Linked DNA regions of Homo sapiens. The gene in region 1 interacts genetically with each later gene. Each region holds a gene or a part of one and is shown on either strand. Other genes may lie near its edges.

Region 1 (8,864 bases):
GCTGGCAGAGAGCTCTCGTGTCCAGCAGGGTTGACAGGAGATCTGGGTTCCATCCCCAATTCTGTTTTCTGACCTAGGACTGGACTGAGGCTAGACTCTCTCTCTCTGCCCCCAGGGGGCAGGTACTCACCACCTGTGGGGTCTGCCTTGATGGGCTCAAAGGAGGTAGAAGGGTTGGGTCCGGACGAACTGCTGCTGTTACTGTTGCTGCTGCTGCTGCTGCTGCTGCTGCTGCTGCTGCTGCTGTCCAGCAGGGCAGAAGACTGCAGTGGCCGGGTGTCCAGTGTTGTTGGGCCCAGTGGGAGTGAACTGAGCTCACCACTGTCCTTGCTATCAGTCCCAGGGCCGCCACTCACTACAATGATAGCCCCCAAACCCAGTCATACAAGGTCAGGAAGAGGTCGTTGAAACTGGCTGTGCTGGAACCCAGACACAGGAGGACCACAAGCCTGGTTCCCAGACCCAAGGAGAATTAGGCATTGCCAGTCACCCCCAGAGGAAGTAACCTGAAATTAGTCACCACAGGAGACAGGGACACAAGACCTACAGAAGAAGACTCGTGGTCAACATGTCTGCTGTGGCCATACTTCAAGACGGGCTACCAGGGCAATTGAGACACCAGTGGATGTGGATCTGGGGGAGAAAACTGCCACCAGCAATGGCTCTTCCCACAGTCAGAGGTTCCCTGTTAAAAAGGGCCCATTCAGGCAGGCATGGTGGTTCAAGCCTGTAATCCCAGCACTACAGGAGGCCGAGGCAGGCAGATCATTTGAGGTCAGGAGTTCGAAACCAGCCTGGCCAACATGGTGAAACCCCATCTCTATTAGAAGTACGAGAATTAGCTGCGCATGGTGGGCGCCTGTAATCCCAGCTACTCAGGAGGCTAAGGCAGGAAAATTTCTTGAGCTTGGGAGGCAGAGGTTGCAGTGAGCCAAGATCGCGCCATTGCACACTCCAGCCTGGGGGACACAGTGAGACTCCGTCTCAAAAACAAAAACAAAAAAGGCTCATTCATTACCATAGCAAGGGAAGGCTAGGTGGTCAGGAAAAGGACAATCCCCAACCTGAAGAGTCTCTTCCAACTCTGAGCATGGTGTTCCACAACACAGAGATACTACCTCTTGGGCCTCTGTCACAAGCTCCCATGGTGCCTCACCTGTGATCTCAGCTGCTGGGCCAGCCATTCCCTGGACTTCTGCACTGCCAGGGACAGCAGTGGGAGTGAGCTGAGGACTATTTGGACGTGAGGCTTCCTGGGACTGGGCTAGGGCAGGCTTGGGCAGAGGTGGAGGTGTAGAAACAGCAGATGGGCTCTGGAGCAAATCTTCAGGTGGTGGCACAGGCACAGCCACAGGGGGTGAGCTCCATGCCTCCTTGTTCACCAGCAGAACCTCAATGGGACCACTCACACTCTTCAGGTGAATCTGGTACTTCTTCTGCCCATTGAGACCCTAGAGATGGGTGGTAAGGGATGGGAGATGGGTAGAATTGTAAGCAGGCTTGGCTCCTGCCCGACTCCGGGTCAGGACCACAGTGTCCTCTCCCACCCAGGATGCCCATCCTCCTAGATAACCCCAAACTCCAGGCCTCCCCCTACTTGCCCCACCCAGGACTTATCAGGCTCCACAGCCAGCACCCGCCCTCAGCTGACCCCGCCTGCCTGGGCTAAGCACCCACCTCTGGGATGGGCACCTCCAGGCTGGTGCCTGATGGGGCCCGGATGGCCAAGAGGGTATCTCCTAGAATGACATGGAGAATGGGTCAGAGCCCATGGGCTCAATCTGAGCTGGGAACAGAGGTGCCTGCCTTTTGGAGCAAGGCAGGAGATCACGGTCCCTGAGGAACTAGACAGTGGGCCTCACCCATCCCCCATAGTGGCCAGGCAGAGCTAAAGCTCTTCTCTTCCTGAGAGCCCAGGGTCAGTAACCAGGAAATCTGGGTTCAATTATGTGGAGTGAAAGATCACTGGCCACAGGCACCTCATTCCTCTACCGATGGCTGATCCCTAGGTGAGGGTGTTCTAGCCAAGGCCAACATCCCTTTCCCATGACCAGTCAGGAGCATACAAGATGGAGAAGAAACACATCAGCGGGGCACAGTGGCTCACACCCATAATCCCAGCACTTTAGGGGGTTGAGGAGGGAAGACAGCTTGAGCTCAGGAGTTCAAGACCAGCCTGGGCAACACAGCAAGAGCCCATCTCTTAAAAAGAAAAAAAAAGGAACAGATCCTGTATTCACAATGCAACTAAACTAACAAGTTGGAAGTGGGCACCCCCATGCCCTGCATGTAAGAGCCTGCACACAAGCAAATACACACATATCCTCTCTCCCTCTCTCCCCCTTGTGCCTCTATCATACCCAAGAAGCCAAATCCAGGAAACAGTAGAGATGGGAACAGACCCAGGGACCCACTCCAGAATTTCTGTACCCTTTTGGTATAGCTGACCTCCACAGGGTCCCAGTGACACTCAGACAGAAGACTTACCCTGCCTGGTTCCTCTCTGAGCAGGCCCCAGAAACCCTCTTAAGAGACAGAACTCTCCTAAGACACTGAGCCCAGTGCTCAGGACTTTGGCTGAGCCCAGCCCACCCCCTTACCCCTACCCAGGCTCTGCTCACCAGCAAAGCATCTGCAGATGTCCTCATGAGTGACGTAGGCCAAAGTGTGAGGGTTAAGGAGAATGGCTGATGCCCTATGGTGACAGATGGCAGACTACAGAAAAGACCCAATTCTTTAGCTAAGGTCTGACACACAGGCCCTCAGAGACCGTTCTGGGGACTCAGGTCCACCGGGGGAGGGATCACAGGCTAAGAGTGGAAGGGGAGGGGCTCTGAGGAGGGAGCCTGAGGCTGGGCCATGGCCAGTGGCTATAAGACAAACTCCCAAGAGGAACAGGACTCAGGGCAAGTTGAACCAGAGGGCCCCTTGCCCACTCCCCCCAGCAGGGACCGCCAGGAGGATATCAGCTGTTCTGCACGTCCTCTGTGACGTTCCGGATGCTCTGCTGCACCCACACCTTGTGCTGGTCTAGTTCTTGCTCCCGCTGCTGCAGCTCCTCGATCTCTGCCTTGAGCTCAATCAGTTTGTCAGCAATCTCCCGGGTATTGCAGCCAGGCCCCACACCCCTGAGCCCAGGGAGTGGGGCTGAGAGGGACTGCTGAGAACTCTGGGTCCCATGGCCCCTGCCTTCTTCGGCACCCTCCACCCCACGCCCGACACTTCTGGGTGGGAGACTCTACTACCCTCCCACTATGCCCACTCACTTCCACTGGATGCTGTTCTTGGACTTTTTCTCGATTAGCCCGATACCTTCCAAAACATTGGTAATGTCGTAAATCCGCCGCTTCTGGCGTACAGCTAGGGTGTCAGCTGCCTGGCAGAGAGAATGGAGAATGCTCAGCCCCACTCTGGGGTGTACCCCCAGCCACCCTGAGACGTGGTCTGGGAAGGGAGTAATCTGGATTCCAACCCTGTAGTGCCTCCCAGGCGCTACTGCAGCTCAGGACCGCAGCTCTGTCCCATAGGCAGCTCTTCTCCTCGCCAGCCAGGAAGGGCCACGAGGACGAACACCTGCAGCCCGAGCCTGGCCCATAGCTGTAGCTCGATGGCCTCGGCCGAATGAATGAAACATCCCCCGGCTTCTCTCCTGTGAGAAAGCACACGATGGCGGCCGGCTCTCGGAGGACCCAGCTGGGCCGCCCCCGGGGTTCCCGCTACCGGCCCAGGCCTGGTCCACCAGCCTCCCTTGTCTCCCCTTAGCCCAGGCCGCACCAGCTTGAGGTCAAGCACGCCGTCCTTGGCCTCCTGCAGAAGGGACACGAACTTGGTGGTGAGCAGTCCCAGGCTCTTTTCGTGCCGGCTTGGAGTGCCCGGGGGCGGCGGCGCCTGTGGCCCGGCCTCCGCCATCGCGCCCGCCCGCCGCCTCCCCTCAGCCAGGCCAGGCCAGGCCGGCGCCGCCGCCACTTCCGCTTCCGTTCCTGGCCGCCGGGCAGCCGGAGCCAGCGTTACTGCTTCCGCTTCCGTCCCGTGCGCCTTCCAGGGAACGTGGCGCTATTGCTGTCTGTGGGTGCAGCCGCAAAACTTCAGGGACCAGTAGCAAATGTCCAGCCTCCGAATAAGACGAAAACTACCTGGGTAGACCGGGGAGTTGGGATGAAGTTGGGGAGGAATGAGAAGGGCGTCAGTGGGCCGCCCTGGCAGTAGAGAAGGGGACGCCATCGGAACTTTCCTTGCCAATCTGCCCCAACATCACTAACTCTGCCTAGTCCCCATCTTGGGAGAGGAGACCACACTACCTGACTAATCCAATCTGCTCCCTCAAACCTGTTCCTTTTCCATTTTTTTCTCTTTATTTATTCTTTTATATATTTCAAACTCATTTTACTGCCACATCAAACCTGTTCCTAAAGGCTGCCCTACTGTCTTGGGGTCACCCCATCTATTCCTATCCCTCACTTCCTGCCAAACAGCAAGCACTAACTATATCTACCTTGTCCACCTTGTTCCACCCATGGTCCTAGCCTCATCTTTCGCTCGTCTTGTCCTCACAGTACAGTGCTCAGAGACTATGGGGTTATGAACACTTCAGCCAATGCAAACGTGTTTACCTATGTGTAAATATCAGTAAAGCACTCAGTCATTCCTGGCATGCAGGAATGTGTGATACGGTCATTTTGTAACTTTTAACATTGTTACTATTTATTATTGTTTCTTTTAGATCAGGTCCTCTGGGAAATGGGACTCGAGATAGGGTTTTGCAGCAAGTTTGTTGGGGATCCACACTTTTTTTTTTTGAGACAGGGTCTCACTCTGTTGCCCAGGCCGGAGTGCAGTGGCAAGATCAATGCCGTCTCAGCTTCCTGGGCCCAAGCGATTCTCCCACCTCAGCCTCCCAAGTAGCTGGGACCACAGGCATGCACCACCATGCCCGGCTCATTTATTTTTAGTTTTTTAGAGATGTGGGTCTCACTATATTGCCCAGGCTAGTCTTGAACTCGTGGGCTCAAGAGATCCTCCCACCTCAGCCTCCCAGAATGCTGGGATGACCGGTGTGAGCCACCGCACCTGGTCAGGATCCACACCTTTAAGGGATTAAGACAAGCAGAATTGAGCAGATGCAATTATATTATAGGCCTCAGCCTATCCCACTAGGATCTCTGAAATTGGGGTAGCACTTCTGAAGGGTTCATGTTCACACGATGGTACCATGCTTTTGCACCCCAATATTGACTGAGAGACTCAGTGGTGTGATCTCAGTAGCCTACACTCCTGGCAGCTGGAGAATGAGCACTTCTGTCCTGAAGGGTGGATTTGGGTGGTGGACTGAACATCCACTAAATAATTACCACCTTATAGTCCCTTCCCTGGCTCCCTATAACTCTCAAGATAAACACAGCTGCCCAGTTGCGGTGACTCACGCCTGTAATCTCCCAACACTTTGGGAGGCTGAGGCAGGCAGATCGCTTGAGCCCAGAAGGCTGCAGTGAGCTATGGTGGTGCCACTGTACTCCAGCCTTGGTGACAGATCAAGACCCTGTCTAAAACAAAAAAGATAAACACAGCTTTCATGACCCTCTCCTACCACCCCCCACCACACCCCTCTTCACAAGAGCCTGCCACCTCTCACTCCTCCGCAGAGGTACACATCCTCCTCAGAGGCTGGCCAACACAGTTTTCATCCTGTGCTGTTGATGTCGTCTGCATCCATATCTGCACACTCTGCCCACCACCCCAGGTTGAGGCCAAGTCTAGCAAATCCCTATCTCCTCTCCTGAGCACTAAGAGGTTCTGGGTAGGCTGGTCAAGACTGGTTGAGTACAAGTACACCCCACCCCCCCGCCCCTCAGGGAAGTGTCGCCCAGCTGTCCCCACCCTCTGTGCAGACACTCTTTCCTGTTGGGAATAAAATGCCAGAGACTCAGCTTCCTTCCTTTCTGTTGATGGCCTTGGGGAGGGAGGAGCCTCGGTGGGAAGAAGGGGCTTCTGGGTGGGGAGTGGGAGAGAGACTTCCTTGGGGAGAGGAATTCAGCTGCACGCTGGAGTCAGCTGGAGTTGCCCAGGCCCTGTGAGCAAGTGGCAGGCGTGCCCAGCTGCATTGGGGAGAGGGCTGTTCTCAAGGCCAAGGTCATTTTTGGAGGGAGAACTGGACGCCTGATCAAATCTGGTAAGTTCTGTACCAAACTGTCCTGTGCAGCTCAGAGCAGGACCAGGGTCCAGTGGAGGCCTGTGCCCACTCTGTCTCGCTTGACATCTGCAGGGGCACGACTGGGAAACCTAGCAGGCAAAGCCTCCCAGGTGCCCTCCGCATCACACCCGCTCCCTCTCACTTCCCGAGGGGGCCGGGAAGAACCTCCTTCCTCCTCTCAGAAGGGCTTAGACAGAGGCAGCAGCTCACAGGGGCATCTACTCTGCCTGCTTGCCCCGGGCCCACCTCAGCTCTGGCTCCTCCAGGCCCACAATGGACTCAGCAGCCAAGGATGAGATGCAGCCGGCGTTGTCCCCTGGTATGAACCTTTTGGGTGGACTAGGGGAGGAATGATGGCAACAAAGATGGGACTGGCTGGGCGCAGTGGCTCACGCCTGTAATCCCAACACTTTGGGAGGTCAAGATGGGCAGATGACCTGAGGTCAGGAGCTCCAAACCAACCTGGCCAACATAGTGAAACCCCGTCTCTACTAAAAATACAAAAACTAGCTGGGCGTGATGGCACGCGCCTGTAATCCCAGCTCCTCGGGAGACTGAGGCAGGAGAATCGCTTGAACCCGGGAGGCGGAGGTTACAGGGACCCGAGATTGCACCACTGCACTCCAGCCTGGGCAACAGAGCGAGACTCCATCTCAATAAACAAATAAACAAACAAATAAATAAATAAATAAATAAATAAGAAAGCTGGGACTGGGGTCGTTGGGCCCTCCTCCCTGACTACACGGCTGCCCAGGCTCTTCCTTCCCAGGACCTGAGTGGCCAGAGCAGGAGCGGGCAGAGCAGCTGGCCCGGGGTGCAGCGCTCAAGTGGGCCTCAGGCATCTTCTACCGGCCGGAGCAGCTGGCCAGGCTAGGCCAGTACCGCAGCCGCGAGGTGCAGCGTACCTGCTCCCTGGAATCGCGCCTCAAGGTGGGCATGGGGCAGGGGGTGCGGGTGCTGGGACTGTGCTGCAGGGCTGGCCCAGCCTCATGGCTCCATCTTTCCACAGTCAGTGATGCAGTCATACCTGGAAGGCGTGCAGACTGGTGTGTGGCAGCTGGCCCAGGCCATTGAGGTGGTGCAGGGAACCCGGGAGGCCCTGAGCCAGGCCCGTGGGTTGCTCCAGGGCATGTCCCAGGCCTTACAGACTCTAGAGCCCCTACGGGAGCGGGTTGCCCAGCACAAGCAACTGCAGGCCCTGTCTCACCTGCTGCCTCGGCTGCGGGCAGGTGAGCATGCAGGGACCCTGGGCCTCAGCCTCCAATAGTCAGTCCACAAACACCCATCCCTAATCAAGGGGCTGGGGCACTAGATGGGGAACTGCATAGAGCAGCACACCAGGGACCTCCCAGACAGTAGCCCGGGCTTCCCATGGCCTATGAGGCAGCTCATCCTGGGATTCCCACGTGTGGGATGCTTGAGTCAGGACAGACACCCAGTCATGTGACTCTGGCCACCTGGTTATCAGTATATTCAAACTCTTCCCTAACAGAGTGGCTGAGCGAGTACTGGCAGGACCCCCCGATTTCCCCTGCCTTCCCTCCAGGATCCTCAGCTTCCTCATATTCCATGAGTTCATGGGTTGACCTCTGGCCCACCAGGTCTTTAGGACATTGCCAAGATCCTCTTAGATTGGCCAGTACTCTACTGGTTATTTATTTATTTATTTATGGTTTTTTGTTCATTTTTTGTTTTGTTTTGTTTTTGAAACAGAGTCTCACTCTGTCACCCAGGCTGGAGTGCAGTGGTGTGATCTCGGCTCACTGCAACCTCCATATCCCAGGTTCAAGCAATCCTCCTGCCTCAGCCTCCCCAGTAGCTGGGATTACAGGCATGTGCCACCATGCCTGGCTAATTTTTGTATTTTTAGTAGAGATGGGATTTCACCATGTTGGCCGGGCTGGTCTCAAACTCCTGACCTCAAGTGATTCACCCACGTTGGCCTCCCGAAGTGCTGGGATTACAGGCATGAGCCACTGTGCCCAGCTTACTCTACTGGTTGTTAAATATTTTATGCATCACCCCCGCCCTGGGCCTCAGTATCCCCTGCTGTACACATTGAGGCGGTGGGAAGGCTGAGACCCAGGGCCGTCTCCTTTTCACTCTCATTAGTGCCGGCTGCAGTGTCCCACACACAGACTCTGATTGATGGCCAACAGTTCTTGGAGGCATATGTGAGCCTTCGGGAGCTGGAGCAGCTGCGAGAGGATACGTGGGCACCCCTGGGGGGCCTGGAGTTGCCAGTCTTCCAGGGGCTGGACCTTCTGTTCGAGGCACTGGGCCAGGCTGTGGAAGCAGCTGCAGGGGCCGCAGGGAAGCTGGCACGGGAGGACCCAGCCCTGTTGGTGGCTGCTGTGCGTGTGGCGGAGGTGGAGACTGGACGAACAACCCCCCTGGGCCAGGTCCCCCGGGACTGGCGTCAGCGCTGTCTGAGGGCACTACAGGAGGGCCTGGAGCAGGCCCACTTTGGGTCACCTCTGCTGCCTGCACCAGGGGCCCTACCAGGGTGGCTGGAGGCTCTGCGAGTGGCCCTGCCAGTCGAGTTGGCCACAGCTGAGGCACTAGTAGCGCCTTGCTGCCCGCCACAGTACAACGTGGTCCAGCTATGGGCCCACACGCTGCATAGTGGTTTGCGCCGCAGCCTGCAGAACCTCCTTGCAGGGCCTGAGCTAGAAGC
Region 2 (8,103 bases), about 16 Mb from region 1:
CATGAGTTAGCCCAGCGGAGAGCGGCCCAGATCTTATTCAGAAATGCCCCTTCCAAAGGCCAGCAATTATTGTCCTGTTTCCTGCTTATGGGTTCCTTACTTCAGGATTTTCAAACTTGAATTTTTCTTCAGTCCTTCTGCGAGAGAACATACACCTTCATCCTGGAGATGGTTCTCCTCCAGGCTGGTGAGAAGAAGAGAGAAAATCCAGTTGATACAACATTGATTATGGAAGATGATGAACTCACATGCCCCCCATATAGGAAATCCAACATCTGAAAACCCAAACTCATGGATAAAGAAAGAACAGATAAAGTACGTTGTGGGGATTCTCAATTCCAGGGACATATTTGCAAGAGAATTCACTCCAAGGGCTCTCAATGTAATAAGTTCCCTGATCCCCCAGCTTCCTGATCTCCATCTTTCCTTTCTTCCTTATTAATGGAAGTCTCATTTCATTTGGACAGCCATGCACTTGGTGAAAAAACTGTATTTCCCACTCTCCATTGCAGCCAGGGCTGGTCAAACAACATACAAGTGGGTTGGTCAAGTGACATACACATGGTTGATACATAAGGGGAAGTCGACAGGTGGGGCTTCCAGGAATGCTTTTTAAAGGAGAGAACCCAGATGGCTTTCCTGGGTATATAGATCGAATCCGGGAATACAGAAGTAGTGCTGCACCTGGAGCAGCCATCCTGTGATCATGAGACAACCAACCATGTGAATGAAGTCACAGGCTAAGAATGATGGAACAGGAAGAGAATGAGACAGAGCTGAGACCCCTCCTGGCCTCTTGTAGCCACTGTACAAACCCTACACTGCCTACATCCAGCTGCCTATACAGGAAAAAATAAACCCTTTCCTTGTTTAAACCTCTATAGATGGAGGTATTCTGTCACCTGCAGCTTAACATATAGTTAAACTAAATTTGGCCTGAGACTGCCTCTGTACTTTGAGTTCCTATGTAGCAAACTGCAACCTAACAACATATCCTTATAACAAACAGCTAAGTCTTAGCCAATCACAGCAGCCAGGCTTCAGTCAGTCACAGTCTACCAGCTGATCAGTCTATATCCATATAAAGAAAATGCCTCATCACACCATGCCCATATAAGGCAAATGCCCAGCTGCAACCAATCAAGCTGTTTTGTACATCACTTCCTTTTCCTGTCTATAGATACTGCTTGCCTACCTTGCTGGGTGGAGCACTCCCAGTTCTGAATGCTGCCCAATTCATAAATTGCTGTATGTTCAAACCAGTTCTGCTAAATTTAATTTGCCTAAAGTTTTTCTTTTAACAGTAATCATAACTGATGCTCTCATAACAAGGTTCTCCTCTACTAAGAAATTCCAAGTGGCAAAATCCAGTCAGGATAGAATCAATCATACTTGAGTAGAGCTAGTAAGCCCTGCAACAGCCAAGGTCCATCCATAAAATCTGTTTATGGCAATGCCCATATGTTGCAGTGCCTTTCTGCTTCCCGGGAAAATCAAACATTCAGTATTTTATCTCCCTGACATAATCTGAAGCTGCCCAGAACATGTCAGAAAACTATACTAGTGGCATCTAAAGGATGAGAAACTTAGAATCTGCTTCAGGTCAACAGTATAAGCATGATTCATGGTTCCTCTTTCAACTATCAAAACTCCATTACACCTTCCAAAATGACCTAAGACTTGAATACCCAGTGCTCCTAGGAACTCAAAATCACTTTAAAATAACAAAACTTTATTAGTAGTAGTAGTCACAGTACTATAGTAGTTGTAGCAGCAGCAGCAGCAGCAGCAGCAGTAATAGTAGTAGTAACCCTGCCATTATTCTAATTTAACATTTATGGAGCACTTACAAATATGCCAGGCACTATATTAAGGTCTTCACAGGCACTACTTTATCTAATTCTTGCAAAAATCCTTTATGGTTGGAAGTATTCTTACCCTCATTTTACAGACATGAAACTTGAGATTCTGAAATTGTTATTTAACTTGCCTAAGATCACGGCCTGCTTGATTACAGAGTCTGTGCTCTTAACACTTATGCCATGTGGAGGCAGTCACCAAACCAGCAAACCCATATATTTTATTAAATAAAAAAATTAGCATGTACATACCAGGCTCTATAAGCTTCATACCACTCAGTACATATAAAGACAAACACAATCAATCAATCAGTCAATCACTCAATCATCCACCTTTGTCTGTCCACACAACCGCTCCTATGGATGAGGCCAGGGGATCAACAGAGATTGTGATCCACTTCCCCAGAGCAGAGAATCCCCCAAACTCACCAGAGTTCTTCTAGCATGACGTTCTTTGCCAGCATCAGTGCCAAGGCTTGGGCACCCACACTGCCAATGTTGTTCCCCACCAGGCTGGAGGTAATCATGGAACAAAAGTATGTCAGAGCAGGGAAAGACCTCAGAGATGAGCTAACCTATGGAGGGCAAAATTCGTGGTGCTCTCCTGGTCTGCTCCATTTCAGACATCACTAATTGATTGCGGTGCTCTTTCTTTTTTCTTTTTTTTTTTTTTTCTACCCTTTTTAGACATCACTAATTGAATGCAGTGCTCTTTTTTTTTTTTTTTTAGCTTTTTTAGACATCACTAATTGATTATAGTGCTCTTCTTTAAGCCCAGGTGCAGCCTTAGAATTCTTTTTAATGTGGTGCACTGGGCACCCACTACCAATGGATTGGAATTGGTCCTTAAGATAAAATGTACCTGATCCAGCCCAATATCTTCAATTTACAGATACTGTATCAAAACCCTGAGAGGACAAGGGACATTTCCAAGTCACCCAGAAAGACTCGAGTGTCCTCTCTTGAAATCCAATGGTCTTTTTTCCTTACTCCATTGCCTAACATTGTGGGGTAGAAATAAAGTTCAAAGACCTTCAGAACTGGCCCCAGCTCCTCCCTCTTCACCTGATCTCCCCAAGAAAACTGCAGGATAGACTCTGAAGCTTACCTGAGCCACCTCAAGCTCTGGTGATCACCCAAGGCTTCAGCCAGGGCCTGGGCCCCCTCGTCACCCACTCTGTTGCCCCAGAATCTGAAAAGGCCAAAAGAGTCAACAGACAGTGTCAGTGAGTACCTGATATGTGTTCTAGACATGAACTAACAGTCCTCCTCCCTCTGCAGTCCCAGCCAGAGGGGCAGGACCACTCAATCCCAGAGTGGCCTCACTGGGGCTCCTGGTCCCAGCAAAGTGGACCTGCCTCCATCTTTTGGGTGGGATGGCCAAACTTAACCCAAGAGTTTTCAGTGGCTTTACATTACAGACTTAGAGAATAGTAGAGGGCTACCCAGCCCTAACCCTTAAGGACAGGAACTCACTGACAAGAGTAATTTACAGTTGTGACACTTTTTCTGACACTTAGTTCAGATACGCTTCCTGGTAACTGCCACCCACAAGTCCTTAGCTACCCTCCAGTACCTGCCCATAACAAGTCTAACACTTCTTCTGCAAGCTAGCTCTTTATCTCCTGCTTCTTCCTAACACCCCTAATTCCTTCACGCCATCAGCTTCAACTCCCCCAGCTTCTGGGCCATCCTCCTCTGACTCACTGTAGTTTGAAAACATCCCTTTCCAAAAGGTAGATCCCAACTCACACCTTCTGACTTATTGACTGTATTCTAGGGACCTACCCTGGACAGGTATGTACACAAGTTAGCAAAGAATGGCTGAATTAGGATGTCCACTGTACTTTCATTCATTAGGTATGTATCGATTGAGCTCTGGCTATGTGCCAGCACTGCTCTGTGCCCCAGGGATATGACACTGTAATAACAAAAAACCTGAAAACAACTTAATAGTCATCAAAAAGTGACCAGTTAAATACATTATGTAACACTCTGCAGCTCTTTGAAAAATGAGGTCAGGCTGAGCAAGGTGGCTCACTTGTGTAATCCCAATACTTTGGGAGGCAAAGGAGGGAGGATCACCTGAGCCCAGGAGTTTGAGACCAGCCTGGGCAACATAGTGAGACCCCGTCTCTACAAAACATAAAAATATCGGCCAGGCATGGTGGCTTGTGCCTGTAGTCCCAGCTACTCAGGAGGCCGAGGTAGGAAGATCACTTGAGCTCAGGAGTTCAAGGCTACAATGAGCTATGATTGCAACCACTGCACTCCAGCCTGGGTGACAGAGTGAGACCCTTTCTGTAAATATTAGTAAAATAAATAAATAGATAATTAAGTAAATAAAGAGGTCATAATGACCTAAAAAAATTCCTATAATATATGGCGAAGCAAAAAAAAACAACAACAAAAACAAAACAAAACAAACAAACAAACAAAAAAAAAAACCAAGCAAGTTACAGAACACTTTGTATCATATGACAGCGTTTGGGGGTTTTAGCACAACGCCTGGCCCAGACAGGTGCCCTAATAAATATGTGTTGAAAGAGGTAAATACCCCTGATGTGGCAGATGTGACCTCAAGCAGAAGAGAGTTCAGTGGGGCTGTGGCCTCCTTTGTTCTAGACTCTGTTGCTACTAATGCAGTGTGGAAAAGATGTTGATTTCTAGAGCAACATAGTCCCATTTGTGGCTCAAACTGAGCTTGGGGGCCGGGTGCGGTGGCTCACACCTGTAATCCCAGCACTTTGGGAGGCCGAGGCGGGCGGATCATCTGAGATCAGGAGTTCAAGACCAGCCGGGCCAACATGGTGAAACCCTGTCTCTACTAAAAATACAAAAATTAGCTGGGCGTGGTGGTGGGTGCCTATAATCCCAGCTACTTGAGAAGCTGAGGCAGGTGAATCGCTTGAACCAAGGAGGCGGAGGTTGCAGTGAGCCAAGATCGTGCCACTGCACTCTAGCCTGGGCAACAGAGTGAGACTACATCTCAAACAAAACAAAACAAAACAAAAAACTGAGCTTGGGGGCAACTTGCCTCCCTGTGAAATGGGCTGGAACACCTAGGCCCTAAGGTTATTCTCTCTTCCTACAGTCCCAGGTTCTAAAACTCCCAGTTCTTGTCAAATGGACTCCAGTTCACACTAGGGCATGACAGGATAGGAGAGAGGCTGCTGGAAACAGCACAGGTGCAAGCCTGGGTGCCTAGCAAACAGAGGAAGCCCACCCTGGGGCTGCAGGTTGGGGTACTCCCCTCCCTGGCAGGCCCTAGCATGGTCCTACAGGGAGCAAGAGCTCCGAGGGACCTAGCACAGCCCCTCTTATCCTGGGTGCCTTCCTATCCTTCCCCATTTCCTTCTCTTTCTTAGGTCAGGGGTCCTCACCCCTGGCTGTACATCCCCTGGGAAGCTTTTTAAAACTCCTGATACCTGGGCCTTGCACCTAGATATTTGCATTTCATCAGTCTGGGGTGGGAGGCCTGGCAATAGTGTTTAGAAGCTTCCAGGTGGTTTTAATATGCAGCTAAAGTACAGCCCTAGCGCCCCCTGAGGATCAGAGGGCTTCCTGTCACCAGCTCGTGGGCACTGTCCTCCCCTAGCCCCAACATCCCAAACTTCCTGTTTGTCAGGCATAGACCAAGTATGAAGGTGGCAGTCAAGGGCCGCCCACTCTCTCCCTGGCTTGTCCTCCCCACTGGAGCTGGGCTGCCTCTGGGGCCTCCTGGCTGAAGAGTTTCACCTGCCCCTAAATCCTCAAAAGTCCCAAGCCCCTCCATGCAGGTCCCTCTTCCTGGAATCCAACCTACCCCAGGAACTGCAAGGAGGTGTTGCCTCGGAGCCCCTCGGCCAGCACTTGGGCTCCCGCGGCAGTGATGTAGTTATTCCCCAGCCTGGAAGGGAAGACAGAGGAGGCTGAGAGAACACAGCGGCAGGCAGAAAAGGAGGGCCGTCTGTGCCCTGGCCAGGGAAACACAGGAAGAAAGCATTGAAGACCTGCCCGGGAGGCAGCAGCCACATCAGGTGCCCTCGCTGCTAGGTCTAGTTTACTCAGCGGCTCCCACAACTTCATTTTCCCCCAGCAAAGGGAAAGGGGCAGCGGGACGCTGTTTGCACAGCAGTGTGACAATTCCAGGCAGGAGCCACAGTAGGCAGCTGTCCTGGGAGGTGGTTTCCCCGGGACAGCGAGGGTGACTCAGGGTCACACCTTTCCCTCTGGTCTCAGCCGCCCTCGATCCAGACCCCATCGTGCCCTCTGCAGCCTTCCCAGATCTGTTGTTGCTACAGGTAGGCTTTACCTGTTGCACAAGAGCGCTGGGCAGGTCCAGGTGGCTGGAGGGAGGGGTGGGGCCCACTGAGCCTTCCAGAAAGGAAGGAGAGAGGGAGGGCCAAGGCTAGGGGTGGGGGAAGATCCCAGCAAGGAAGGCTCCTGCTGCAACTGAATCCAGACACCTCGGAGAGCTTCGGAGAAGCCCCAGAGCTCTCACCTGCAACCCTAGGCTTCCTGGGATAACTATACGCTTTCATTCTTTCAAGGAACGTCAAGCCACTCAGCTCACAACAATCCTATAAGGCAGATATTATTGTATCCTTGGAGAAGGGGTGTGGCAGCTAGGAGAACTCGCCTTTCAGGTCTCCAGCCTCAGCTCCTTGGAGGTAGCCAAGGGCCCCAGCTGCTGTGCTCCAAAATCTAACATCCTCGCATCTGCACTTGCCAGCCCCTGCCTGAGACATCAGGCTCCCCTGCCTGGTGAATTTGGTTCAAGAACTCCTCATCAGCCTTGCCAAGATGTCTTAGGACTGCACTGAAGTCCAAGGTGCCCAGTCTCAACCTTCCTTCCTTCCCTCTCTCCTTCACTCAGGGACACACCTCCCAGCCTCCCCCAGCTCCCTTCCCCACTTCCCCTTTTAGGACTTTTCCCCAATAAATGGGTGGCACATTGAATCCCTGCTTGGAGGACCGGACTCACATAAGGAGAAACAAGCTGAGTGCTTGTGTGATTTACCCATCATCTTTCAGCCACTCGCTTACTATATAAAGCCCCTGCCAGACGGTGCAGCCCTTCATGTGGATTAACTTGCTTGCTCATCACTACAGCCTGTGAGGTAGCCAGGGTTATTACCTCCATTCTACAGAAGGGGAAACGGAGGCACACAGACATTGGGCTGACCTGAGGTCACGCAGCTAATGAGGGTTCAAACCTCGGGCAGTCTGGCTCCAGAGCCTGTGCTCTCTATTACAATGATATACGGTAATCCCTGCCCCCTGCTTATCCGCAGCTTCGCCTTCTATGGTTTCAGTTATCTGAAATCAACTGCAGTCCAAAAATATTAAATGGAAAATTCTAGAGATAAACAATTCATACATTTTAAATTGCATGCTATTCTGATCACGTGCCATCCAGCTCCATCCCACCCAGGACGTGAATCAGCCCCCCGTCCAGCGCATCCACGCTCTATACGCTCCCATTTGGTAATCATCAAGATCGTCTGCTCCTGACATCCAGCTGCCGACCTCATTGTTGCTCAAAGATTAGGGATCTCTGGGAGCAGATGATTCTCCTCCTGAAGTGTGGTCAGGTCAACAGCAGCCCAGCGCTAGAGCACAGTGCTGCATGCGTCATCCACCTCACTTCCTCCCATCACACAGGCATTTTACCACCACACATCTTCCCAAGAAGAAGGGTGAGTACAGTACAAGAAGATATTTTGAGGGAGATGGAGAGAGTCCACATTCACATAGTGTTATTATAGTACATTGATTGTTATAATTGTTCTATTTTATTATGAGTTGCTATTACTCTCTTACTGTGCCTAATTTATAAACTACACTTTATTGCAGGTGTGTAGGTATTGGGAAAAGCATGGTATGTGTAGGGCTTGATACTCTCCATGGTTTCAGGCATCCACTGGGGTCTTAGAACATCTCTCCTGCACATACCGGAGGACTACTGTGTTGGCCACAAACTCAGCCTCCATTTCTGAAACTAGCACCCTTCTCAGGGATGGGCCAGCCAGGTCTGGCCACAGCCTATTCCAGGCTTGTGAGTCTGAGGGATCAGGCAGTGGTAGCAGGACTGAGTCCTTTGTACAAATTGGCACCTGTGGTTCTGATCTCAGTAGCCCTTGCCGAGACTGAGCTATGTGGCCCGCCATTTTAAAATGGCGGCTCCCATCCACAAACCCAGCCCAAGAGGTAAAAGAATAGATGGAAGCAATTCTTTACTTTGTCTTTTTTTACTGCCTCA

Evidence for each region. A genetic interaction does not mean that the proteins touch.
Region 2: changes in E2F4 (region 1) and NOD2 together harm fitness more than expected from each alone (negative genetic interaction), as found in Homo sapiens cells (one study listed by BioGRID).

What each region holds. Positions count from the first base shown.
Region 1 is NC_000016.10:67,187,273-67,196,136, reverse strand, and holds the start of E2F4 (transcription factor E2F4), read right to left. Parts: upstream 3,983-8,864; 5' UTR 3,910-3,982; coding exon 3,775-3,909; intron 3,377-3,774; coding exon 3,267-3,376; intron 3,129-3,266; coding exon 2,967-3,128; intron 2,666-2,966; coding exon 2,622-2,665; intron 1,740-2,621; coding exon 1,678-1,739; intron 1,452-1,677; coding exon 1,157-1,451; intron 356-1,156; coding exon 131-355; intron 1-130. Other genes in the region: EXOC3L1 (exocyst complex component 3-like protein), read left to right, coding at 6,461-6,506, 6,957-7,117, 7,197-7,416, 8,300-8,864. UniProt on the Homo sapiens protein: Transcription activator that binds DNA cooperatively with DP proteins through the E2 recognition site, 5'-TTTC[CG]CGC-3' found in the promoter region of a number of genes whose products are involved in cell cycle regulation or in DNA replication.
Region 2 is NC_000016.10:50,717,570-50,725,672, reverse strand, and holds part of NOD2 (nucleotide-binding oligomerization domain-containing protein 2), read right to left. Parts: intron 5,749-8,103; coding exon 5,665-5,748; intron 3,052-5,664; coding exon 2,968-3,051; intron 2,373-2,967; coding exon 2,289-2,372; intron 185-2,288; coding exon 101-184; intron 1-100. UniProt on the Homo sapiens protein: Pattern recognition receptor (PRR) that detects bacterial peptidoglycan fragments and other danger signals and plays an important role in gastrointestinal immunity.